Homo sapiens: one gene and its partners. The protein of the gene in region 7 purifies or fractionates together with the protein of the main gene of each other region. This does not show direct contact. Each region holds a gene or a part of one and is shown on either strand. Other genes may lie near its edges. The genes, in order: ARCN1, TRMT2B, JPH1, DDX54, PPIH, RAP1B and SCYL3.

Evidence for each region.
Region 1: the proteins of SCYL3 (region 7) and ARCN1 purify together in Homo sapiens (affinity purification with mass spectrometry; one large-scale study listed by BioGRID and IntAct). This does not show direct contact.
Region 2: the proteins of SCYL3 (region 7) and TRMT2B purify together in Homo sapiens (affinity purification with mass spectrometry; one large-scale study listed by BioGRID and IntAct). This does not show direct contact.
Region 3: the proteins of SCYL3 (region 7) and JPH1 purify together in Homo sapiens (affinity purification with mass spectrometry; one large-scale study listed by BioGRID and IntAct). This does not show direct contact.
Region 4: the proteins of SCYL3 (region 7) and DDX54 purify together in Homo sapiens (affinity purification with mass spectrometry; one large-scale study listed by BioGRID and IntAct). This does not show direct contact.
Region 5: the proteins of SCYL3 (region 7) and PPIH purify together in Homo sapiens (affinity purification with mass spectrometry; one large-scale study listed by BioGRID and IntAct). This does not show direct contact.
Region 6: the proteins of SCYL3 (region 7) and RAP1B purify together in Homo sapiens (affinity purification with mass spectrometry; one large-scale study listed by BioGRID and IntAct). This does not show direct contact.

Annotation. Positions count from the first base shown.
Region 1 is NC_000011.10:118,589,409-118,592,908, reverse strand, and holds part of ARCN1 (coatomer subunit delta), read right to left. Parts: intron 2,569-3,500; coding exon 2,403-2,568; intron 201-2,402; coding exon 53-200; intron 1-52. UniProt on the Homo sapiens protein: Component of the coatomer, a cytosolic protein complex that binds to dilysine motifs and reversibly associates with Golgi non-clathrin-coated vesicles, which further mediate biosynthetic protein transport from the ER, via the Golgi up to the trans Golgi network.
Region 2 is NC_000023.11:101,049,312-101,053,377, forward strand, and holds the start of TRMT2B (tRNA (uracil-5-)-methyltransferase homolog B), read right to left. Parts: upstream 2,801-4,066; 5' UTR 2,506-2,800; exon of another isoform or gene 2,473-2,505; intron 2,426-2,472; exon of another isoform or gene 2,423-2,425; 5' UTR 1,940-2,422; intron 1-1,939. UniProt on the Homo sapiens protein: Mitochondrial S-adenosyl-L-methionine-dependent methyltransferase that catalyzes the formation of 5-methyl-uridine in tRNAs and 12S rRNA. Catalyzes the methylation of uridine at position 54 (m5U54) in all tRNAs.
Region 3 is NC_000008.11:74,259,041-74,262,540, reverse strand, and holds part of JPH1 (junctophilin-1), read left to right. Parts: intron 1-3,037; coding exon 3,038-3,156; intron 3,157-3,500. UniProt on the Homo sapiens protein: Junctophilins contribute to the formation of junctional membrane complexes (JMCs) which link the plasma membrane with the endoplasmic or sarcoplasmic reticulum in excitable cells.
Region 4 is NC_000012.12:113,161,479-113,164,978, reverse strand, and holds part of DDX54 (ATP-dependent RNA helicase DDX54), read left to right. Parts: intron 1-693; coding exon 694-912; intron 913-1,704; coding exon 1,705-1,847; intron 1,848-1,933; coding exon 1,934-2,047; intron 2,048-2,981; coding exon 2,982-3,086; intron 3,087-3,500.
Region 5 is NC_000001.11:42,668,423-42,671,922, forward strand, and holds part of PPIH (peptidyl-prolyl cis-trans isomerase H), read left to right. Parts: intron 1-3,500. UniProt on the Homo sapiens protein: PPIase that catalyzes the cis-trans isomerization of proline imidic peptide bonds in oligopeptides and may therefore assist protein folding. Participates in pre-mRNA splicing.
Region 6 is NC_000012.12:68,659,399-68,662,898, reverse strand, and holds part of RAP1B (ras-related protein Rap-1b isoform 1 precursor), read right to left. Parts: 3' UTR 1-3,500. UniProt on the Homo sapiens protein: GTP-binding protein that possesses intrinsic GTPase activity. Contributes to the polarizing activity of KRIT1 and CDH5 in the establishment and maintenance of correct endothelial cell polarity and vascular lumen.
Region 7 is NC_000001.11:169,859,397-169,862,896, forward strand, and holds part of SCYL3 (protein-associating with the carboxyl-terminal domain of ezrin), read right to left. Parts: intron 3,402-3,500; coding exon 3,217-3,401; intron 1-3,216. UniProt on the Homo sapiens protein: May play a role in regulating cell adhesion/migration complexes in migrating cells.

The DNA of each region.
Region 1 (3,500 bases), on a different chromosome or scaffold from region 7:
TTTCTAGTTCTCAATGCAAACTAGCTTAGTGGGACTGGCCAGAGGCACTTACTTGTCAGTGGAATAAAAGATTCCTCTGTGGTTTGTAGTCTCCACTTTAGCACCCCTACGTCACTGTTGACTGGAAATGACTTCTCTGGATTCTTCAGGCCAATTAGAGACTCTGCAGTGAAAAGTTTTTTATCCACATTTGGATGGGTCTAGAATGAGAGGGAAAGGAAAACTCCTGAGGTTCAGATAGACGAGAAACAACCCCTCACTAGGCTTATATGGCCCACAATCTAAACATCCAAAATAGAGTACCTAACAAATTCCAATTCTTTTTCATTTTGAAGAAAGATTTCCCTTCTTCAAAGACTTATTTTAAAATGATTTAAGATACTTAAAAACTAGTAATTTTTTAAAAAAAAAGCTAATTTCAACTCTAAAAGCCATTACAGAACAAGTTTGCACCTGAAAAAGTTAAAAGACTATTAACCAAGTTCTTTCCAAAAATACTTCACAGGGAGCAGGTTCATGGTGGGGCCAGGTTTGCCAAGCAGAAGGCTCCAGTAAGACCCTGATCAGCTGCCTGGGTCAGACAGCAGTTCTGGCCTTATATAAAGTAGCAGAAAAGGGCAAGCTCTGTGTAAAGTCTAGTTGCAATTTTGCCTAGAGACTTAAAGTTGTTAAAATCCAAGCCAATTAAGATAGTCTTATCTTTTTAAAAGAAATTGCTTTTGGGGAGGCTGAGGTGAGAGGGGCATTGAAGGTCAGGAGTTTGACATCAGCCTGGCCAACATGGCAAAACCCTATCTCTATTAAAAATACAAAAGTTAGCTGGGGCTGGACATGGTGGCGCACGCCTGTAATCCCACCTACTCGAGAGGCTGAGGCAGGAGAATGGCTTGAACCCGGGAGGCAGAGGTTGCGGTGAGCCGAGATCACACCATTGCACTCCAACCTGGGCAGGAAGAGTGAAACTCCGTCTCAAAAAATAAAAAATAAATAAATAAATAAATAAATAAATAGCTGGGTGTGGTGGTGCACACCTATAGTTCCAGCTACTATGGAGGCTGAAGAGGAAGCATTGCTTGAGCCTAGGAGGTTAAGGCTGCAGCGAGCCAAGGTTGTGCTGCTGCACTCCAGCCCGCATGACAGAGAGAGACTGTGCAAAAACAAAAAAAAAAACAAAAAAAAGAACAAAAAAACAAGACAAAAACAAAAAAAACCCAGAAGGGCTGGGCATGGTGGCTCATGACTACAATCCCAACACTTTGGGATGATGAGGTGGGCGAATCATGAGGTCAAGAGTTCGAGACCAGCTTGGCCAACATGGTGAAACCCCATCTTTACTAAAAATAAAAAAAATTAGCTGGGCATGGTGGCAGGTGCCTGTAATCCCAGCTACTCAGCAGGCTGAGGCAGGAGAACTGCTTCAACTGGGGAGGCAGAAGTTGCAGTGAACCAAGATCGTACCACAGAACTCCAGCTTGGGCAACAGAGAGAGACTCCATCTCAGGAAAACAAAACAAAACAAAACAAAACAGAAATCACTTTTGGATAGCACTTTACAAGCCAGCAAAAATGTCAAATAATATAAGCACTGCTTCCAAAAGACAATTCTGTGCTGACTACGGTGGGGAAAGTAGACAAAAACACTCTTCCGTAAAAAGGCTTTGTTCTTGTGACGAGATGTCGGCTAAATGAAATGAAATTACAAGAACACCTGTAACATAAAGCAGGGCTTATATATATCTATCCAATAGTTGGAACACACACACTTATATTGAAAGGATTTTATGTACTTTTCAAATACACCATTAGATACTGCCCTTCAGTTAACAAAACAAGCACTGGCAGTTTATTTAATAGCAGAATGAGTAAATTTCGCATTGTGCCACCACGCCTGGCTAATTTTTTAAGTTTTTGTAGAGATAGGGTCTTGTTGCTCAGCCCTCATTGCTCAGGCTGTTCTTGAACTCCTGGGCTCAAGCGATCCTTCAGCCTCAGCCTCTCAGAGTGCTGGTATTATAGGCATGAGCCACCACACTTGGCCTAAAGCCTTGTTTTTTTAAAACTGTATTTCAAGCAAGATCCTAAGTGATTAATTTACTGTTTTCATAACAGCAAAAGACAAACACCTCCTTGTACCTTTTATTGGTGAGTATGAAGTCATTTATTAGATTTCGAAATGACCTTTTATTCAATTCCAATATTTAAAAGCCATCCTTACACAGCTGCTTTACTCACTCTCAGGTAGCTACTGTATGCAATATATTAACTTCTTTCCTAAGCGTTTAGAGTGATGCTAGTTATATAACTTAAGTAATTTTCTGTGGTTCATATTGGGAACTCTAGTTGAGAAAGACTATAATAGGTAGACAAAGTGTTAATACTCCCTATCAAAAGCTTCTACACACCTGTAGCTGCACCCCTTTCTTATCTTCATTTTCCACATGAAGACGAATTCGGCCATACTTGTCATCTGAGATCCTAAGCATGATCATGCCATGCAACTCCATATTCTGTAATCCTCCGTCTCGTCCACAGGTTAATGTTATCTTTTCTTCAATCTTCATATGTACACTATAAAGAGAAAGTAATACATTTGTTCAGAAAGGTAGAAACCAATGGCCGGGCGTGGTGGCTCATGCCTATAACCCCAGCACTTTGGGAGGCCAAGGCGGGCAGATCACCTGAGGTGGGGAGTTCGAGACCAGCCTGACCAACATGGAGAAACCCCGTCTCTACTAAAAATACAAAATTAGCCAGGCGTGGTGGTGCATGCCTGTAGTCCCAGCTACTTGGGAGGCTAAGGCAGGAGAATCGCTTGAACCACGAGGCAGAGGCTGTGGTGAGCCGAGATTGTCCCACTGCACTCCAGCCTGGGCAACAAGAGTGAAACTCTGTCTCAAAAAATAAAAAAGAAAAGAAAAGAAAAAAGAAAGGTAGAAATCAGAACTCCCTTTCTCCAAGGTCTAATGATTAGCCATCAACAACGTTTTTTTAAAGGTGCTACTGCTATAGCTATCAACATTTAAAAGGCGATACCCTTTGATACAGCAATTCTTCAACAGACTCTATCCTACAGATAAATTCTCACCTGTGCAAAACAATCTGCTAAGTTATTCACTGAAGAATTGTTTGTAATGGCAAAAGTTTAGAAACATGTCTGCCAATAGGGGGCTGCTCAAATAAAGGCATATTCACGGGCGTGGTGGCTCACGCCTGTAATCCCAGCACTTTGGGAGGCCAAGGCGGGTAGATCACGAGGTCAGAAGATCGAGACCATCCTGGCTAACATGGTGAAACCCCACCTCTACTAAAAATACAAAAACAAAATTAGCCGGGTGTGGTGACGGGCGCCTACTCAGGAGGCTGAGGTGGGAGAATGACGTGAACTCAGGAGGCGGAGCTTGCAGTGAGCCGAGATGGTGCCACTGCACTCCAGCCTGGGCAACAGAGTGAGACTCTGTCTCAAAAAAATAAAAAATAAAAAATAAAGGCATATCCACCCG
Region 2 (4,066 bases), on a different chromosome or scaffold from region 7:
AGCGAGATCCGGTCTCTACAAAAAGTTTTAAAAATTAGCCAGGTGTGGTGGCACACACCTGTAGTCCTAGCTACTTAGGAGGCTGAGACAGAAGGATCACAAGTCCAGCAGTTGAAGGCTGCAGTGAGCTATGATTGTGCCATTGCATTCCAGCCCGGGAGGGAGACCCTGTCTCCAAAAAAAAAAAAAAAAAAAAAAAAAGCCAGGCGGGGTGGCTCAGGCCTGTAATCTCAGCACTTTGGGAGGCCAAGGAGGGTGGATCACTTGAGGTTAGGAGTTCGAGACCAGCCTGGCCAACACGGTGAAACCCTGTCTACCAAAAATATACAAAATTAGCTGGGTGTGGTGGCGCACGCCTATAATCCCAGCTACTCAGCAGGCTGAGGCAGGAGAATTGCTTGAACCCGGGCAGAGGTTAAAGTGAACCGAGATCATACCACTGCACTCCAGCCTGGGCAAGAGACTCCTTCTCAAAAAAAAAAAAAAAAGTGTGTGGCCTGTGAGAATGTACGTATTCGATATGGAGGATGGCAAAAGCCAGAGAAAGGAAATGAATGAAGAGGCAAGAGACATAAAGAATGACATGGTGGGTCTGAGAAGGCCAGTGGCCTTGAAGCCCAGACTACAGGGGAAGGGAGTAGAGCTGATCCAGGAGAGGGGTCCTGTCCCTCCAGTCAGCAGGAAAGTCAGGAGGAAGGAAACTGCAGGCCCATTTGAGGATTTGCAGAGGAGGGACAAGGAAGCTGGGGAATTTGAAGATAGCTATTCCCACCCCAACGACATTTAGACTTTTTTGTGAGTGTGTGGGTCCTCTCACTGGTGACTCTGCCATGACTGTAGTTCATTTGCCCTATACCCCAGCAGGAGGGTCCTTGTCCATCTAGGTCTCTTCCAAATTATCAAGTATGGTTTAAAACAGGACCTTATTATTTCAAGGTGCCAACCAGCCATCATTCTAGGTAAAGAGCCTGTCATATTTAGTAACTTCTGTGGTGAAATTTCTTTTTCAAGGCAGCACACTCATACTAGTCAAGGTGAGTTCTGTTTCTTTCTTAATGTCAGGGGAGACATTTGTTCACAGAAGAGACTATTTTCTTTTTATATTTTGTCCTGTTTTAAATAAGTGCTTGGGGCCAGGTGCGGTGGCTCACGCCTGCAATCCCAGCACTTTGGGAGGCCGAGGCTGACAGGTCACCTGAGCTCAGGAGTTTGAGACCAACCTGACCAACATGGAGAAACCCTGTCTATACTAAAAGTACAAAATTAGCCGGGTGTGGTGGCGCACGCCTGTAATCCCAGCTACTCGGGAGGCTGAGGCAGGAGAATCGCTTGAACCTGGGAGGCAGAGGTTGCGGTGAGGCGAGATCACACCATTGCACTCCAGCCTGGGCAACAAGAGTGAAACTCTGTCTCAAAAATAAAAATAAAAAATAAAAAATAAATGCTTGGGGGCCAGGCTCGGTGGCTCTCGCTTGTAATCCCAGCACTTTGGGAGGCCGAGGCAGCCGGATCACAAGGTCAGGAGTTCGAGAGCAGCCTGACCAACAGAGTGAAACCCAGTCTCTACTAAAAATACAAAAATTAGCTGGGCGTGGTGGCAGGCGCCTGTAATCCTAGCTACTCCAGAGGCTGAGGCAGGAGAATCACTTGAACCCGGGAGGCGGAGGTTGCAGTGAGCCGAGATCGCACCACTGCACTCCAGCCTGGGTGACAAAGCTAGACTCCGTCTCAAACAAATAAAAAATAAAAATGCTTGGGAGTTTTTTCCTCAGCAAAAAAAAAAAAAAGCGTGTGAGCAGTCGTGCTCGACTGTTCTATACCTGCCTCAGGAATTGATCAGGAAGAGTCCTGGAGTCCAGAGTAGCCCAAATAGGAAGGCAGGCTAACTCTCCTGTGCTCAGAGAGGTTCAAATCAAAGAGACTATGTGGTAGGTCTCACCTGCGCAGGGCCAAGGATCCCTTTTGGAGCAAAATGTTCACCCACCGACAAGGGTCCTGCTTGCACTCTCTGCTCACCCTTCCTTCAGCTGGACCGGCTCCAGACACTATTCCTTGCTAAACCAAACAAGCAAATGGGTTGACTGCTGTGTCGTGTCCCGAATGCAGCCCACAGGCAGTCAGGTCCTTGTCTCCCCAACAAGACTCCACTAGCCCTTCCATTCCCTTCTTCTTTAGGCAAGTTCTGCCCACTGTGTCTGTAGGAAGGGTTAACAAAGAGGAGACACTAGGAAAGGCTACCACTAAACTTGGCCGGTCTGCAGGGCCCGGGAAGGACAGAAAGTAAGGGAGTGGGAGGAGTTAGGGCACAGGCCCACGCTGGGCCGTACACGACCTTGCGCAGTCACCGTCGGGTCCCGTCTCCAGCCCCGCCTGCCTCCTCCATTCCCCGCCCCGCGGACAGTTTGGCATAGTAGGGAGTTTTCTGTAAAGCAAGGGTTAAATCAGGTTTTCCGGGCTATTTATCCACCTTACCTTCCTTCGTAACCAATAAATCCTCTTACAAACCTGAGGCGGCAAACTAAAAGGCCAGCGGATGGCCTGGTTTGCTGCGGCGGGGAAACAGTCACTTCCTGGTGCGCAAGGCGCCTCTACTCCCGCCGCACGCGCAGCCAACCCTTGGCAAGCGCGGCGGGACACGGGGCTCCTCCCAGCGTCGGCGAGGCAGCAGGCTCCGGCACCTCGACTCCTCTCGGGGAGTACCCCTCCCTACTTTGCTGGGGGAACCTTCTATGGAGACCTTCCTTAAAAGCACTCATAGCCCTGACACCCGCCGCCTTCCTTCTCTAAGTTCTCCTCTCCTCCCCTCCCCGGGGCCCCGCCCACCACCTGCTCTTTCCTCACCGTCCCATTGGTGGATCTACATAAGAGACTCACGAAGACGTTCACACTGCAGTGTTAACTGCGTTAGCCATCCCAGGGGTGCTTGCAGTTTAAGTCTTCCAACTCAAGGAATAGTTTTCTCATGATAGAATTGCAGACATCAGATCCCTAACGGGTTGGAAGATTGGGAGATGAGAAACAGGGTGGTTCCGTGAAATGGCATCCTTTGGTAAAAGCCAGATCTATTCTGGGCCGTGGGGTTTCTCAAGCATTCATTCTCTTTTAACACTGCATCAGAAAAATACTTTATAGTTTCTTCACTGGATCCCACTCAAGACTATTAAATCCTAAACCCTCAGAAATAATCTTTTTCTTCAACTACAGAACTCAAAAAGAGGACAGATGTCTCTTTTTGGTTGATTCACTACCTCCTGGACTACATTCAGTAATACCTCTAATTTTTAGAGGAGTCATTAGCCCAGCCACGAGTAAGAAAACTTGAAGTATACACACATCTGTGTGCTGTAAAATATTGTTGCTTTAATAGAGTAAAATTTACAGCAAAGTGAACCTACCGAGGTGGGTGCAGTGGCTCACGCCTGTAATCCCAGCAGTTTGGGAGGCCGAGGCGGAAGGATCACCTGAGGTCAGGGGTTCGAGACCAGCCTGACCAACATGGTGAAACCCCATCTCTACTAAAAATACAAAAATTAGCTAGGCGTGGTGGCGCACGCCTGTAATCCCAGCTGCTCAGGAGGCTGAGGCAGGAGAGTCACTCGAACCCAGGTGGTGGAGGTTGCAGTGAGCTGAGATCATGCCATTGCATTCCAGCCTGGGCAAAAAGAGTGAAACTCCGTTTCAAAAAAAAAAAATAGTGAACGTACATTTAATGATATTTAATTTTTATGCTTAATAGTAATTGTGCTCAAGTGGAAAACACTTTGTAGTCAACATTTCATGTATTAATATTTATTCAAAGCATAACATGCCTATTATGTGCAAGGCAATGTGTTAGCCTTAGTGAGTACAGTAGTAAATTAAACAAGGCCCAATACTTCAAATAGCAGCAAACATTGAGTCAGTCAGAATAGGATTCAAAGCCCAGATCTGCCACTTATTTTCTATTTTTCTGTTTTTTGAGACAGAGTTTTGCTCTTGTTGCCCAGGCTAGAGTGCAATGGTGTGATCTCGGCTCACCGCAACCTCCGCCTCCCAGGTTCAAGCGATTCTCCTGCCTCAGCCTCCC
Region 3 (3,500 bases), on a different chromosome or scaffold from region 7:
TGATAAATGAAATGCTTTTGGGGCACGTATTCCCCTTTGGTGTATGCATTTTTTGCCTGTGACCAGCAATAGCATCAGGGCATCCAGTTTGAGTGGTTTCAGCTTATCTCTCCAGACTGCCTAACCTGAATCCCACCCCCCAACGCAAGAACAATCGCAATTGACTGATTACAGGGGTCGTGTGTCACTCTGGAACTGAGCCTGGGATGTGATCACATGAATTCACTAACATGAGCCAGAGACAAGTCCAGATTATTCCTGGGCAAAATCTAGACATGCCAGTGGCCTTAGCTGTACAGGCTGGTGTTAACAGCAAACTCAGAGTGGGTTTCTGTTCTTCCTTCTTGTCATCGGTTCCAAAAGCTCTTGAGCAGACTTCAGGATTCAGGTTTGAATGTGGTCTTGACTCATCTGGCCAGCTATACAGTAGCACTGAGCCACAGAGCTGGGCTGGATAGAAAGGTCCTCCTTTGCTGTGTGGTCTTATAGGAAACAGCAAGTAAAAAAGTAAAGGGTTAAGTACTAGCAGGCTTCACTGATGCTGTGCTTCCAAAATATATTTGCAGAAAGGTTAAGCTGTATTTGTCTATTCTCTAGTTTAGCATATTATAAAAAGTGGTAGATATACTACTGCTGTTTTATTTGACTGTATGGTGGTGTGTCGTGATTGAATCCGAATAAGTTACTTGTACTTGAGTTTTGTAAATTTATCATTAAAGGGCTAATAGATAGTATTATAAAGCAGCATAGCTATACTCTTATGGCTTCATTAATTATGACACCTAGACATAATTAGGCTCTGGCTAAGAATAGCGGACAAAATGGAAAATCATTTGGGGGAAAAAAGTTTAGATTCTGAGAAACTGAAAGAACATTAGCGGAGGGCATCTGTTGATTATCAGGCACAACACACAGGACTAAGGCATTACCCATCGTACCTCAGCAATGGCACCCATGAGGGGTTATTCCAACAGCCAGTTGTTTAAGAATATGTCCCTCCCCTCTTGATGTTATTTCCATTTCATATTTCTTGATACCCCATACACAAATAATCTAAAGCATCCTCCATGGTTTAGAAATAGCAGTTTTGATGATTCGAAGTTGATCCACTCATTTTTAATGACTTTATTTTTTAGAGCAGTTTTAAGTTATCAGAAAAATTGAACAGGAACTGCAAAGTTCCCATACACCTCCTCTCCTCATGCACACACACAATATCCCCTATTATTAACATCTTGCATTTTGAGGTGCGTTTGGTGTAATTGATGAACCGGTATTAATATATTAGTATTAAAGTCCATAGTTTACATCAGGCTTCATTCACTGTTTGTGTTGTACAGTCTATAGATTTTGACAAATATGTAATGTCCCCCACTACAGTATCATGCAGAATAATTAAACTCCCCCAGATATGCCCTCCTTTCCACCAATTCATTCTTCCCTACTACACCCCGAACTCTTAGCAACTCTGAATCTTTTTACTGTCTCTATGGTTTTGTCATTCCATTCAGTTTTAAGAACTACCCAGCTTTTCCTAAGGAAGCATCATTCATTCCTTTATTCATAAAGTGGTCCCTCAATAAATAGTATGTGCCAATGTAGCGTTCTGCACTTTGGGATTATGACAGAGGACCAAAAATTAAAAATTCCAATCTTCACAAAGCTTACATTCTAATACATCAAGCCTTCAGGCTTGCTTAGATCCTAAATAGAAGTGAAAGGAGTCCCGTGAGAGCACAGGACAAGAGGAGGTTATTGAAGAGAGTAATGTGAAAAGGGGGCCTCCTACCAGTAGACCCCCTTGTCTCAGGCCAGGCCCGGTGCCTCCGTGTTTTGGTCCCAGGAGCTCCGCCTGCCAGCCTCCTCCAGCTGCTGCCCGTGTGTTCTCCCTGAAGAGCATCCAAAGCCCATGCCTTTTCCCAACTCCTCCTCTCTCCTGCTGTCTCCAACATAAGTGTAAGCACCTTTTTCAGACTTCCATTAAGTTTTCACTGCTAGTTATTTATAGCCCTGCCTAGTGCTAATAAAATATAATAGAAAATTTACAAAGTCATAAGAAATAGGTACCCATAAACATCTAAAGACTAACGGGACAAGGCCTTTCCCTTTGCAGAGCAGATAAACCAGAGTTTTTTTCTTCCCTCCAACCCTCTCTGGGGCCAGTAGACATCATTCCCTGGTGCAGCCATAAGAAGCCCTATTCTTTTTCCTGCCACTTTCCGCATAACCCTAGTCCTCCAGAAAGATGAGAGGTTTCCATGAGTGAGGACAGGCCAGGGAGGCGATGGAAGACTGAAAGATCCATTTCATCCTTGCCAGTTCTGCCTCGCTGTCTCCTTTTTGGTTCATACAAGAAACATGCCTAAAAGTCAGCTAAATGGGCTCCTCAGGAACCCTTCTGAGCATGTTCTTAGAGCGGGCCTTGTGGTTTGCTCCTGCTGGTGAGCACCAATAGTGCACATCTCCCCACTGCACATCCAACGGCATTATGCTGGTAGCCTGAAATTGGCCACGGTGAGAACATTTACACATGGATATGAATAAACACTACCAATCCCCATTTCACTAATTTTTTTCTTCAAAGAGCTACTTCACCAGCATGCCAGTGGGCAGATCTTTCTTAGTCAAATTCTTACATTGATTGTACCGTAGAAATGAATTTGATAAACACTATTAATTTATATGTTCTAATTCTACTTTCCATAATTTTAGGTGGGGGGGAGGAATGCCAACCAAAGTCAACAGGAGATTTGATCCAGTAAGTTTTGAAAACCACACTTAGCATCAAGCTACACAGACCTTGCTCTTACTTTTCATTTCCCTTGAGAGAAGGGCTAAGGCAATTCATGGGTAGTTTAGTTTCATCTATGTCATCTTCATTGAAATTTCACGGCAATAGGACTCTAAAATTTTTGCTCTTGTGGGTGTCGGGCCATAATCATAATTAACATTTCTTTTCCCAGATTACAATTTGCTTGTCCCTGTGTAAGTAACAAGGGGTCACCTATGCTGACTCGTCCTTTTGTGCCCCGTGTAGGACTGCACATGCCAGAGCGAAGGCCGATGCCGCCGACCAGGCCGCGCTGGCCGCTCGCCAGGAGTGCGACATCGCGAGAGCTGTGGCCAGGGAGCTGTCACCTGATTTCTACCAACCAGGTAAAACAGTGCTCCTTTGATGGGTGAGGCAGGAGCACTGGCTTTGGCTTGCTTTTATTTCCTTTTCCTTTCAACATAAAGATGTGTGCTTCCTGAATCCCAGCAGTACTATTATACAAAACAAGCAAGGGCGCCTGCGGTTGAGGATCCTTCATCTGAAGTGCTTGGGACCAGAAGTGTTTCAGATTTCAGATTTGTTGATATTTTTCTGTATTTGCATGTACACAGTGAGATCTCTTGAGCTGGGAACCCAAGTTGAAACACGAAATTCATTTATGTTTCATAGATACCTTATACACATAGCCTGGAGGTAATTTTATAGTATATTTTTAATAATTTTGCAC
Region 4 (3,500 bases), on a different chromosome or scaffold from region 7:
CATGGCTCACTGCAGCCTTGACCTCCTGGGCTCAAACGATCCTCCTATCTCAGCCTCCTGAGTAGCTGGGACTACAGGTGCATGCCACCACACCCAGCTATTTTTTTTTATTTTTTGTAGAGATGAGGTCATGTTGCCTAGGCTGCTCTCAGACCCCTGGGCTCAGGTGATCCTCTTGCCTCAGCCTCCCAAAGTGCTGAGATTACAGGCGTGAGCCACGGTGCCTGGCCTGGGTCTCTCTGTGTTTTTGTTTGGTTTTGTTTTTGAGATGGAGTCTCGCTCTGTTACCCAGGCTGGGGTGCAGTGGTGCAATCTCGGCTCACTGCAACCTCTGCCTTCTGGGTTCAAGTGATTCTCCTGCCTCAGCCTCCTAAGTAGCTGGGACTACAGGTGCCCACCACCACACCTAGCTAATTTTTGTATTTTTAGCAGAGATGGGGTTTCGCCGTGTTGGCCAGGCTAGTCTCGAACTCCTGACCTCAAGTGATCCACCCGCCTCAGCCTCCTCAAGTGCTGGGATTACAGGCATGAGCCACTGCGCCTGGTCTGGGTCTGTCTATCTAATTGTGAAGTGCAGATAATGGACACTGGGGAAGACTTGGGGAAGAACGCCCATAGGAAGCCCACCAAGTGGTAAGGGTGGGGTTAGGAGTAGGAGGCCAGTGGGCAAAGGACTGGGTGTCCCCTCCACAGACTATCTTTGAGATCAACGCCTCCAGCCGAGACCTGTGCAGCCAGGTGATGCGCGCCAAGCGGCAGAAGGACCGCAAGGCCATCGCCCGCTTCCAGCAGGGACAGCAGGGGCGGCAGGAGCAGCAGGAGGGCCCAGTGGGCCCAGCCCCGAGCCGCCCAGCACTGCAGGAGAAGCAGCCTGAGAAGGAGGAGGAGGAGGAGGCGGGAGAGAGTGTGGAGGTACAGGTTCCACCCTGGGGACCCTGGACCTGGGGTATGGGGAAGGGGTGGCTAAGTCCCAGCAGCCCATGAGGCTGTCCTAGGATCTTTGAGCAGTGGATGGAGGTGGATGCAGTCAGCTTCCCATCTGCAGAGTCGGGGCATGGTTCTTGTCCACCATCCCTCGTTTAAAACTCTGGGGCCAGATCTTTAGCCTGAGGAGCTGTGCACGACATGACACCCTCAGTGGGGTCCGGGGCATCACCAGCCACCAAACACATCAGGGCTTCTGCAGTGAGACGTGTAGGTCTCCACTCAGAGGGAGGACCATGAAGTGTCCCATTCACCTGGTGGGTGGGTCCTGGGCCTGTGCGTCCCCCAGGATGTCCCTCTCTCATGTTTTGTTTGGACAGAGGGTTCAGTAGCCAAGAAGACCAGTTGGAGACCCCTGGCCTAGTCCATGTTGTTCAGAGCAGGCCAGGCGCAGAGAGGGGCAGGGCCGGCTGTCACATAGCCTGGGGTGCGGAGCTGGAATGGGGAGTTGGGTCTCCCTCGGCCGGCACTCTCCTCCTCACCCAGCTGTCCTGCCTCTGCTGGTCCCTGAGGCAGGGGTTGCACTGTGTGTGCAGATGAGGAAACTGAGGGTCCCACAGGAGACACTGTCACCCAGCTAAGAAATGGCAAAATGAAGCTTTGAAAGTCCCCGAGAAGCCACTGGCCCCTCACTGTGGCCAGGCTGGTGGGTAGGGAGGCAGGGGGAAGTCCCCAGGGGGCAGCAGGCATGACACTGGGCCTTGGTCTGTGCTCTGCCAGGACATTTTCTCAGAGGTCGTGGGCCGGAAGCGGCAGCGGTCAGGACCCAACAGGGGAGCCAAGAGGCGGAGGGAGGAGGCCCGGCAGCGGGACCAGGAATTCTACATCCCCTACCGGCCCAAGGACTTTGACAGCGAGCGGGGGTGAGTGGCTGGCTGGGTCCTGGGTGGGGCAGTTGGGTCCGCTGGGTCCCATCAATCCAATTATGTCTCCCACTCTCCCTCTGCAGCCTGAGCATCAGCGGGGAAGGGGGAGCCTTTGAGCAGCAGGCAGCTGGCGCTGTCCTGGACTTGATGGGGGATGAAGCCCAGAACCTGACGAGGGGCCGGCAGCAGCTCAAGTGGTGAGTGATCGAGTGAGCCGCCCCTCCATGCTCGGGGTGAGTGACCGAGTGAGCTGCTCCTCCGTGCCTGGGGTGAGTGATCGAGTGAGCCGCCCCTCCCTCCATGCCCGGGGTGAGTGAGTGAGTGAGCCGCCCCTCCATGCCCGGGGTGAGTGATCGAGTGAGCTGCCCCTCCAGGCCCAGGGTGAGTGAGAGAGTGAGCTGCCCCTCCATGCCTGGGGTGAGTGAGCGAGTGAGCCTCCCCTACCTCCATTCCCTGAAGTGAGTGAGCGAGTGAGCCGCCCCTCCATTCCCTGGGGTGAGTGAGCGAGTGAGCCACCCCTCCAGGCCCAGGGTGAGTGATCGAGTGAGCTGCCCTCCATGCCAGCAGGCAGGGTGAGCTCCCTGAAGTCCTCACTCCCATCTGATCCTGCACAGCCCAGATTATGGCCTGGCTGTCCCCCATGTGACCACTCACAGCAGGTGTGATGGCCCCTGGCTGTGCTGTCCCCTTGATTTGATCACACACCACAGAGATCTTGACCCCGTCTATTCTTTTTGCTGGCAAGTCTTTCTAGACAGGGCTCAGGACCCATTCGTTCAGGACTCTAGCGTCTGGAGAGTGTATGTGACTCAACCCAGGGTCACAGCTGGGTAGGGGGAGGGGATTGGAAACCCTCCAGGAGGCCCTTGTCCCTGAGCCAGGCCCCAGTGCTGGCGGCAGTCCTCTGACCTCCGCACTCCCTTTTGAGACCTGGACTGCAGGGAGAGGTGAGGAGGGATAGGGAAGAAGCCTTTATTGAGCGCCAACTGCATGCCAGACATGGCTGCACTGCTTTCCTTTAATGCTCCAACAACCTGACAAGAGGGTCGGGTGAGGAGACAGGCCCCAAGCGGCAGCCGGCACTCCAAGGGTTTCCCTCCACGGCAGCCGTCCCAACTCCCTCTCCTGCAGGGACCGTAAGAAGAAGCGGTTTGTGGGACAGTCAGGACAGGAAGACAAGAAGAAGATTAAGACAGAGAGCGGCCGCTACATCAGCAGCTCCTACAAGCGAGACCTGTATCCTGAGGGGCGTGGCTGGGGAGGGGCGGGGCCGAGGAGCTTCAGCAGGAGCAGCTTCAATTAAGTGGAACCTGGGGGCGGGGGCGGGGGCGGGGAGGAGGGGGCGGGGCTGAGCGGCTTAAGCAGCCGCATCTCCAATAGATGGGACCTGGTGCTGGGGGCGGGGCCGAGCAGCTTCAGCAGCAGCATCTCGAACTAGTGGGACCTGTGCTGGGGGCGGGGCCCAGCAGCTTCAGCAGCAGCATCTCCAGTAAGTGGGGCCTGTGCTGGGGGCGGGCCCAGCAGCTTCAGCAGCGGCATCTCCAATAAGTGGGACCTGGTGCTGGGGGCGGGGCCGAGCAGCTTCAGCAACAGCATCTCCAATAAGTGGGACCTGTGTGCTGGGGGCGGGGCCGAGCAGCTTCAGCTGCG
Region 5 (3,500 bases), about 130 Mb from region 7:
TCTTCTCTTTCCCATTTGAAAGTTGCAGACTTCTTGACACTTTACCCCTAAGTATTTCAGCAAGGAACTCCTAAAAATAAGAACATCCTACGTAACCACAATATTATCTAATATATAGTACATTTTCAAACCTCCCCAATTGTCCCAAAAGTAACTTTTGTAGCTTAAAAAAAGGTGATCCAATCAAGGTTCCCATATTTCATTTCATTTGGTTTACACAAGTAACATAATACACTCTCATTGTGAAAACTTTCACACCAAACAGATAAAGTGAAAGCCCCTCTTGACAATACCCACCTGCAATTCCACTCCCCTTTCCAAAGGTCACTTCCTTATTAGTTTGATGTATGTCCATCAGGGCCTTTGCCTTGCCCATCTAATTTTGGGAGGTTTTCTTTTTCCCAAATGAAATCATACTATATTTTTCATGTTCTAAAAAATATGTCTTGAAAACTTTTCCTTCTTAGTTCATGTAAAACCACCTTGTATTAAAAAATGAAAACAGCCCGGCAGGAGGTGGCTCACTCCTGTAATCCCAGCACTTTGGGAGGCCAAGGAGGGCAGATAGCTTGAGCTCAGGAGTTCGAGACCAGCCTGGGCAACCTGGTGAGATCCCGTCTTTCCAAAAAAAAAAAAAATTAGCCAGGTGTGGTGGTGCATGCCTGTAGTCCCAGCTACTCAGGAGGCTGAGGTGGGAGGATTACTTGAGCCCAGGAGTTTGAGGCTGCAGTGAGCTATAATCACACCACTGTACTCCAGCCTGGATGACATCAAAAAAAAAAAAAAAAGGAAAAGAAAAACCGAAACTGCAGTGCAGGCTGAGCATCCCTAATCCGAAATCCCAAATGCTCCAAAATATGAAGCTTTTTGAGCACTAACATGACATTAGAAGTGGAAAATTCCACACCTGACTTCATGTGATGGATCATAGTCAAAAATCTGTTTCATGCACAAACGTATTAAAAATATTGTATAAGATTACCTTATACAATAGCTATAAGTAGCTAGGACTACAGGTGCATGCCACCACGCCCAGCTAATTTTTATATTTCTTGGTAGAGATGGGGTTTCATCATGTTGGCCAGGCTGGTCCCCACCTCAAGTGGTCTGCCCACCTTGGCCTCCTAAAGTGCTAGGATTACAGGCGTGAGCCACTGCCCCCAACTGAGCATTAGTTCTTAATTTTATATGTTGTAATTGTTTTCTTCAGAATATATTTTAAGAAAAAAATTAGTATTGTGTTGCTTAAGTTTGGTGATATTCTTTGTTAAAGAGAAGTTCTAAATTTTGATGAAGTCCAAATTATCAGTCTTTCACTGCTTTTCAGTTTTGTCTCATTTAAGGTCTTTACTACCTCAGATCACAATGTTTTCTGTGTTTTTTCTAGTATTTCTTTTTATATGGTGGAGCTAAGATCATTTTTCTAGTATTTTTAAAGTCTTATTTGTACATTTATAAAATCATCTATAATTAATTTTTCTGTATAGTGTTAAGATAGGACTTTTTCTTGTCTTTTTTTCCAAATGGAGATCCAGTCAAATACCTGACCATTTTAATGACTCTACAACACACCTTTATCTGTGACCAACTCTGTTCAGAAAGCTGGCACTTACAGGCATTCAGTAAAAATTTATTACATGAGTTAAGTAGAGAGGGAGAATGTCAGGCATTTTAGGCGGGGAACTCGTGTGAGCAAATGCTGAGGCTGGAATGCACAAGTGTGTGCTGAGAGCTACATGTGGACCTCTCTTGTTCAGCCAGATGATCCCTTCTCAGGCCCACTTGACACCCTGAGCTTTCCTTTCTGCCAATACTGGGTCCCCCTTGGGCCCAGCCTGCTCTCCCTCTTCAATGGCTGCTGGCCATTCCCTCCGTCTCCTACTCATTTCTTTGCTGTAACTAAAGTTGAGTTCATAGGTCCTTTCTTTTCAAAGACTGACCACTGATCACTACCAGAGGACAAACGATAACAAAAAGAATAAAGTTTAGAAATTCTTAATGTTGGGGCCTCTTTTCTGTATCTTTTTGAGTCTTTTACATAAAGTTACTGGAAGTCCTTGTTGAGGTTTTATTTCTGAGGGTGGGGATCATCAACCCTCCCCGCTCTCCCCCACTGTTAGCAAAAGTTATATGAACTTTTGCTTCCAAGAAAGCCCTTCTTCTCAGCCTGCAACCCAAGCAGAACGCATTCCTCAGGTGGCCATTGTACATTCCACAGGCCCGCTAGACCAGGACTGTCCATAGGCTGTGATGATGGAAAGATTCTAGATCTGGGAGGTCCAGTATGGTTGCTACCAGCCCCATGTGACAACGGAACACTTAAAATGTGGCTGGTGCAACTGAGGGACTAAACTGTTAACTTTTTATTTTTTATTTATTTTTTATTTTTTTGAGATGGAGTCTCGCTCTGTCGCCCAGGCTGGAGCACAGTGGCGCCGTCTTGGCTCACTGCAACCTCTACCTCCCGGGTTCAAGCAATTCTCCTGCCTCAGCCTCCTGAGTAGCTGGGATTACAGGCGCACGCTGCCATGCCTGGCTATTTTTTGTATTTTTAGTAGAGACGGGGTTTCATCGTGTTAGCCATGCTGGTCTTGAACTCCTAAGCTCAGGTAATCTGCTCATCTTGGCCTCCCAAAGTGCTGGGATTATAGGCGTGAGCAAACATTCCCAGCCTATTTTTTTTTTATTGACAGAACTAAGCTGTAGTTTATTAAATTTAAATTAGGCTGGATGTGGTGGCTCACACCTGTAATCCCAGCACTTTGGGAGGCCGAAGCAGGTGGATCGCTTGAGGCCAGGAGTTTGAGACCAGCCTTGCCGACATGGTAAAACCCATCTCTACTAAAATTACAAAAATTAGCCGGGCGTGATGACACACGCCTGTAATCCCAGCTACTCCAGAGACAAAGGCACGAGAATCTCTTGAACCCGAGAGGCAGAGGTTTCAGTGAGCCAAGATTGTGCCATTGCACTCTAGCCTGGGCGACAGAGCGAGACCCTGTCTCAAAAATAAATAAGTAAATAAAAAAATAATAAATGTAAAGAGCCAGTTGTAGCTAGTGGCTACTGTACTGGACAGTGAACTCTTTTAAATGTAAGCTTCTCAATCTACTCGCCCTGGCTTGCTTAGAACTGAATCTCGTAGCTAATACTTAAGGGCACTATAATTAAAGCAGTTATCCTTCAATGAATTCTTCCTGTGCCCGGATAATGAGCTAAGAACTTTACTTGAATTATCGCATTTCACTTTACCAAAAATCCCTCATAGGTTTTAAGGTGTTAGGAAATCTGGGTGGCAGTCTAATGTAAAGGGGTTCTACAGATGGGCACCCCATTTTGGGTTTCTGAATAATGTGATTTAAGAAAAATTAATGAAAGAGGAGATGAATTTCCCATGGAGCAGGGGTGTGGAGGGAAGGGAAGTGGTATTTTTAAGCCCTATTGGGCAGTATTTCTTTCTTTCTTTTTTTTTTTTTTTCGAGACGGAGTCTTGCTCTGTC
Region 6 (3,500 bases), on a different chromosome or scaffold from region 7:
CTGAATAGCTGGGACTACAGGTACAGACGTGCACCACCATGCCCAGCTAATTAAAAAAAAATTTTTTTTTGTAGAGATGGGGTCTATGTTGCCCAGGCTGTCAGATTTGTTTTGTTTGAAAAAAAAATTTTAGTCTTACAAATCACAATGTTAAGGCTCACTGACAGATTATGAGACAAGCCTGCAAGCACTTTTAAGGCTTCTAAGGTAATAGTAAGAGTATTAATTGTAAAACACTATAACTCCCTTTTACATTTCCAAGATTTAAGAAGAGATAGAATAGATGGAGATTAAATTCAATGAAAACACAGATAAGAGTTTAACTCAAAGAAAAGTTGTAGTGATGAGTTTCGATTCTAAGTTTGCTGTCCCACAACTAAAGACGGAATGATTTAAAAAAAAAAACGGCAAAACTTCATTTTATAAATGGAATTTTAAAAATTTCTATTTGTAATGCCCACATATGGTAAAGATGAGCTATTTACGTTTAAGAAACAACTGAATCAACAAGAAAGTCAATACAGGGTTTTTACACTTTTTAGAAAAATGTAAGTGAAAGACCACTCTGATTTTCTCCTAAAACTCAAGTTTCTTCAAGTATCCTTGGGGACGTGAAAAGGAATTCATGCCTTTTCTGACTCAATTATTTTAGTATTTTCCCATTAAGCACCAGAAAAGTCAATCTACATGAGTTGTGCTCCCAAACTGCAGTTACTATTTTGTATAGGAGAAAATGGTGCTTTTTGCCAAACCACAGCCTTATTCCTATCAGCATTGAAAAAAATAAATTATATATATAGTATTATATAGACCTCCACTGTACTACATATATATATATACTCTCTCTATATATGTACTATATATAATATATATATATATATATATATATAGACCTAGAGGATAGCACTGGCATTCATTTCACTCTCCTATGAAGTAGGTATTATCATTCTCATTTTACAGATGAGGAAACCAAGGCACCCAACCAAAGGCATATAGTAGGAACTGGAAGAGCTGGGATTAAAAACCCAGGAAGTCTGGCTCCAAACTTTATATTCTTATTCACTATATAGTAAACCATCCATCTTGTAACCCTAACACTCATCTGTAACTAATGTGTTGTTTCCCACCAGAGCAGTAGTTCTTCACCAGGGTGATTTTGCCCTCCAAGTTCACCTCCCTTGTCCCCCAACAATCCAACTGGGGAACATCTGGCAATGTCTGGAAACATTTTTGGTTGCCACAACTTGGGGGCTGGGGTGGTGTGACTGGCATCTAGTGGGCAGATATTAAAATTCCTATAATGCACAGGAGAGTCGCCAGAATACATTATCAAACATAAAACATCAATAGTGCTGAGGCTGAGAAACTCTTCAATAGAATATAAATTCTAGGAGGGCAGCATTTTATAGTTGATCTTGGTTGCTGCTACATCCTTAGGCCTAGAACAATTTTTATACTTAAGTACTTAATTTGTCCAATGAATGAATATTTAGCTGTTTGAGCCTAGAACTGGGCCTGGTACATAGCTGGTAGGCAGCAAACATTTATTAAAAGTAATTATTGAATAATGGCGGTATCAATGGATGTAACAGGACATAGTAAATTGAAGTAATTTTAGTGTTTCACAGTCCCAGTTTTTTGGGCTTAATTTTTTTCCCAAATGATTATAAATAAAACCAGTTCTGCCAAAACAAGTCCCTTTTGTAAAGAATCAGACTTTTTCTTAACATGAAAGCCTTTAAAAATGTATCATTCAAACAGCGTGTATTTAGGGGATTAGCAGATACCCCTCTATTAGATATTATCACTGATTAATTGCTCCAGTAGCTGGCAAATACTTTCAAAAAGTTTTTTAAGAGCTTTACAATTTTTAAAAAGTTTTAAAATAATTCTATAAGAATTCAGTTCTTACAGAATTCAATTATAGCATATTTAAGAAAAATATCGATTCTCTAAGTGCTTAATCCACATCACTCAAAGATTTTTATAACCACAATATTCTAACTTCAATCCTGTATTTTAAAAAATCCATAGTGTAACATCCATGAAAGTATGTTAAATCGTTCCTCTTTTACCTACCTCATCAAATAGCTACTGAACATTACCCAAAGGCATTTATTCGTAAGTAATACTGCTTGATTTACAAAATTATTTCTCAAGGAAAAGTTCAAAAGGTGGTTATGTGGATATTCAAACAATACCAGAAAACTCGCTACTTCCTTATTCCTGTAATTAATGAGTCTGGCTTGCCCAGATGTTAAATTATGAAACCATGCTGTGTAAAATGCACCTATTACAATTAAAACCAGGGTAAACCCGTATTTATTTACTAGCACTGTTAAAACATTACACAAAACACATTCAAGTGGCAAGTAATTATAATGCAAGCCCTTGCATGGCAATCCAAATTTATTGAACTACTGATGCTAAGTTATACAAAATTGCACCACTTTAATTAAGGCTTTTAGTTTACATTTGGCCACCTCAAAGTAGTTGTAACATTAGGTTGGTCAATTTAAATACTGTGGCTCCCTGTTGGATAGACACACAATCTTTACATCCAAACATTAATGCATACAAAGCAACAAGGCATTGTTAAATAAAACAGCAATAGTTACTGCAAATTAGGCCTTGTGACCAATTACATATGATTAAAATTACTTCCCACATTCACATCCACAGTACTCGTCCACCATTTAACATCTCAACCAAAACGTTACACATGTGAAACAATCACTAACAGGCAAAAATACTAAACCTGTATATTTGGTATTGCAAATACACTTATGCATGAGCAAGCAAGGGATTCACAGTGAGAATCTACAGCTGCAGAAGCCTGAAAATGATTTACAAAAATTGTTAAATCATTAAAAAATTGTTTGAAAATATACACTTCTTGTTGTAGACCCCCACTGTACACACGACTATAAACATTGTTCCCTATGTAAACAAAAAAAGGAAACATATAATAAGAGATTTGAAAAGTCTGGACATTTCCTTCCCAACAGATATTAAAGGCAACGTCTTTAATCTAAGACATTATACTGAAAGGACTATCATGTTTTAAAGACAAGATCACCGTCTCCACAGGTTTTTTAAAAATTAAAAAAACTATATAGCTGTGTTAATCAAAGCGCTTATTTTGTACAATAATAATGACCTTGAATTTCTTAAAAAAAATTACAATAAGCTACAAGTATCAAAGAAGCGAAGTTATCTGGAGTAGTCTATATAGGAGCTCTTTGGACTTTCTTTTATTATGCTAAAATAGTGGTGCTTTTAGGATTTACATTATTGTACTCTCCAATACAAAGTATGGGGCATGTTAAAGTATACAGTACACCATTTTCATACATGTACAACATTGGTGGATGAAGAATGTCTCTTAGCAGTAATACTGGATGTAGCCTCTGGTTTTACCAGCTGCAAACTCTAGGACTATTATATAAGTAAAAATCTCTCTTGTGATACTGGAAAGTGATTAGAATGTGCAAACTGAT
Region 7 (3,500 bases):
CATCACAGACTTACCATTTTTAAAAAATACAATCAAAACAAAATTAAAAAGACATATGTTGGGTACATAAAATTACTCTGTCAAATTGCGACAAAAGGTTTTAAATGTTAAGTCTTCATATCTGTACTCACATCACAGAACTGTAATAAAAAGTTCATGTACTGGCAGTGTTCTGCAGAGCGCACTCAGAACTCATCTAGGGTACTAACAGTTATGTTCCTGTCCATGCTTCTCTTTTCAGCTCTTTTCAAGGGTAGGACCACCTGTCCCAAACTGAGCCCATCATGATCTTTTGTCCAGTAATATAAACTAGAATTTATATTTTCAGTTTATATAGGTTTACTCAATGAGGACAGTATGCCAGGCAGGGACAAGTGCCTGTAGCCCGAGCTACTCAGAAGGCTGAGGCATGTGGATCACTTGAGCCCAGGAGTTCTGGGCTGTAGTGTGCTATGCTGATTGGGTGTCTGCACTAAATTCAGCATCAATATAGTAACCTCCCAGGAGCTGGGGACTACCAGGTTGCCTAAAGAGGGGTGAACCAGCCCAGGTTGGAAATGGAGCAGGTCAAACTCCTGGGCTGATCGGTAGTGGGTTCATGCCTGTGAAGAGCCACTGCACTCTAGCTTGGGCAACACAGTGAGACCCCCATCTCTAAAATAATTTTTTTTTATGAGGACAGAAAACTTGGAAGTTATGGGACAACCATTTTGGCCATGTGCACACCAAAACAAGGAAAGCTGGTCTTCAGAGAGTCAAAAGTCAAACAAATGCAGACAGAAGAAAGGAATGAAAAACATGGCTGTAAGCCCCAGCTGCACTTGATTTCCATCTAAGTTAGTCTAACATTCTTAAATTTTTTTTGCTTTGGCTGGTTTAAAATGAGTTTCAGTTACTTGCAACCAAAAACACCTTAGAAGACAGTCACATGCAGATATCAGGCAAGTACTGCTCTGCATATAAGGAAGGAAATGACCTTCAAAGCATCTGCACCAGCCAGACACAAGGCCAGGGTAACTGGCCTGCCTACTGGAAGCAGCAGGGCGTGACAGGTATCAGGAATCTTTGGTTTTGGTCTTAGCTCTGCTAATAATTCTCAATGTGACTTGACCAATTGGTCTTTTTATTTTTCTGGCCTGGTTTCCTCATTTATATAGTAAGATTAAAGGTTTCCAACAGGACTCAAAAGATAATTATTAGGACCAATGCTAACAGATCACTTTCTGTACATGTAAACTAAAGCATGTTTCTTTTACATATGATTAGAGTTCTGCCCACTGAATATGATAATCATAAAACAGCAATCCGCCCAAGCCAAAAATTGGTCATCCTCAACACCTCTTCCATCTAATGAGAAACTGAGTACTACCCCTTCTGTGTCCCTCTACTATATCCACTGTCACACTTTCCCCAGCCTTTGTCATCTCTTAGCTAAACTATTCTAACAGCTTCCTAGCTTATCTCCCTTTCTGTGGTCTCTTCCACACTGCTACCAAAGTGAACTTTCTAGCACACACAAATTGGCCCACTCTTCTTTAGGGGAAGCAGTTTCCTAAGTAATGAGAGGTTTCATTGTCTTCCACATGCTCAACATTTACTCTTTGACCTCAGTCCAATTCTGAGACCTATGATGACAACTCCATTTCAGAGTTAAAGTGCTTCATTCCTCTTCTAAATTTCCAGACACAACTACATACAGGGTAACAATTACTGCTGCAGATGTAAATACAAAGTGCTATGTTGTAGTTACTACAACACAGAGACTTTAAAGTCAGCCCCCAGCGAATCACACCTCCAGTATCCATGCCCTTGAGTAAACCCATCCCACAATGAGCCTGGGCTTTTTCCAACTCTAACCGAGAGAATGAGGCAAAAATGACTGTCAGTTCACAACCTACACTTTAAGAAGGCTTCTTTTGCCCTTTTTTTTTCTTTAGCCCTGGCCAGCCATTTAAGAAGTCCACCTGCCTTGCTAGAGAAATCATGTGGAAATGTCACATGGGGGGATACAAGCCCCCCAAGCTTCCTGAAAATTCATGGAGAGAAAGGCGCAGCCTCTCAGCCACCCCTTCCAAGATACCAAGGAGCCATTTTGGATGTGTCAACCCTTGTCGGGCCCCAGATGACTGAAGACTCAGCTGATATGTGGAACAGAACCTTCAGCTGAGTCCAGTCAATCCAAAGAATCATGAGAATTAATAAAATGATTATTATTTTAAGGCACTAAGTTTTGGGGTACTTACATGGCAACGGATGACTGAAACATGTCCCACTTATGAGCTCCTTGAAAGCAGAGAGAATGTTAATCTATCTCATAGGAAAATTATTTGAAAGACACCATGTGATTGTAGTCTTTTAAAACAATTTTTTTAAAACCTCATACTAGGTTGAATAGTGTCCCTCCAAAATTCATGTCCATGCAGAATGTGACCTTTAGATGAGGTCATACTGGGTTAGGGTAGGCCATAAATTCAATGACTGGTGTCTTTCTAAGAGGCCATGTAAAGACAGACAAGGAGGTAAGAAGGCCACGTGACAACAGAAGCAGAGACTGGAATGATACAGCCACAAGCCAAGAAATACCAAGGATTGCTGGGAGCTACGAGAAGCTTGTAAAGAGGAGTCCCTTTCACATCCTACAGCCTTCAGAGGAAGCAGGGTCCTGTTGACACCCTGGTTTTAGACTTCTGGCCTCCAGAACTAAAAATAAATTTGTATTGCTTTAAGCCATTATAATTTGTGATAATTTGTTATGGCAGCCTAAGCAACTAATACAAACCTTTCATTAGTTTCACTAACAAAACCCTTTGGTGGGCAAATCATAATAAGGTTCCCTAGTGGCTGATAACAACAGGCTGAAAGCCACTGATAAGAATCATCTCATGCTCCTCTCTGTTCTAATTTAATTACTTTATAATAATTATGGATAATTATATGTTATGTTCACAAAGTGCTCCATACATTATTGTTATTCATTTACCCTCCCAAAATTAACAAACAATTATAGTTTCTCCCAGGTTAAGACCAAATATGTCAGTTTAATCAATTTGCCTGTGTGAATGGAATGGAAATGCAATTTTAATTTCAGCACTTTGTATTCCACAGACTGCTGCCTGAAGGCTTTCTAAGCTATTATCTGAATACCTCCAAAACTCTTTCTTTCAGCACTCTTCCCTCAGGTTCTGTGACTACCCCACTGCAAACTTGGCCTCTGACCTGTGGCAAGATGACTTTCTTCAGCTGCTCCTGAGTGAAGTGCTCCACGTAGGCCTCGATGTGAGACAGCAGCACCATCCGCACATGCTCTTCATGAACTTCAAACAACTGGAGAAGCACGGGGATCACCCGTGACTGGAACAGGGCTGGTGAGAGCAAGCAAGGAGTTTCTCCCTGCGCATGATCTACCCGAAAAATCAAAGGTTACAGATGAAAAAACAAATTTTCATTTCAGTGAAAAGTATTAAGCATAATTCATACACTGAACCCAAAACTACACATAT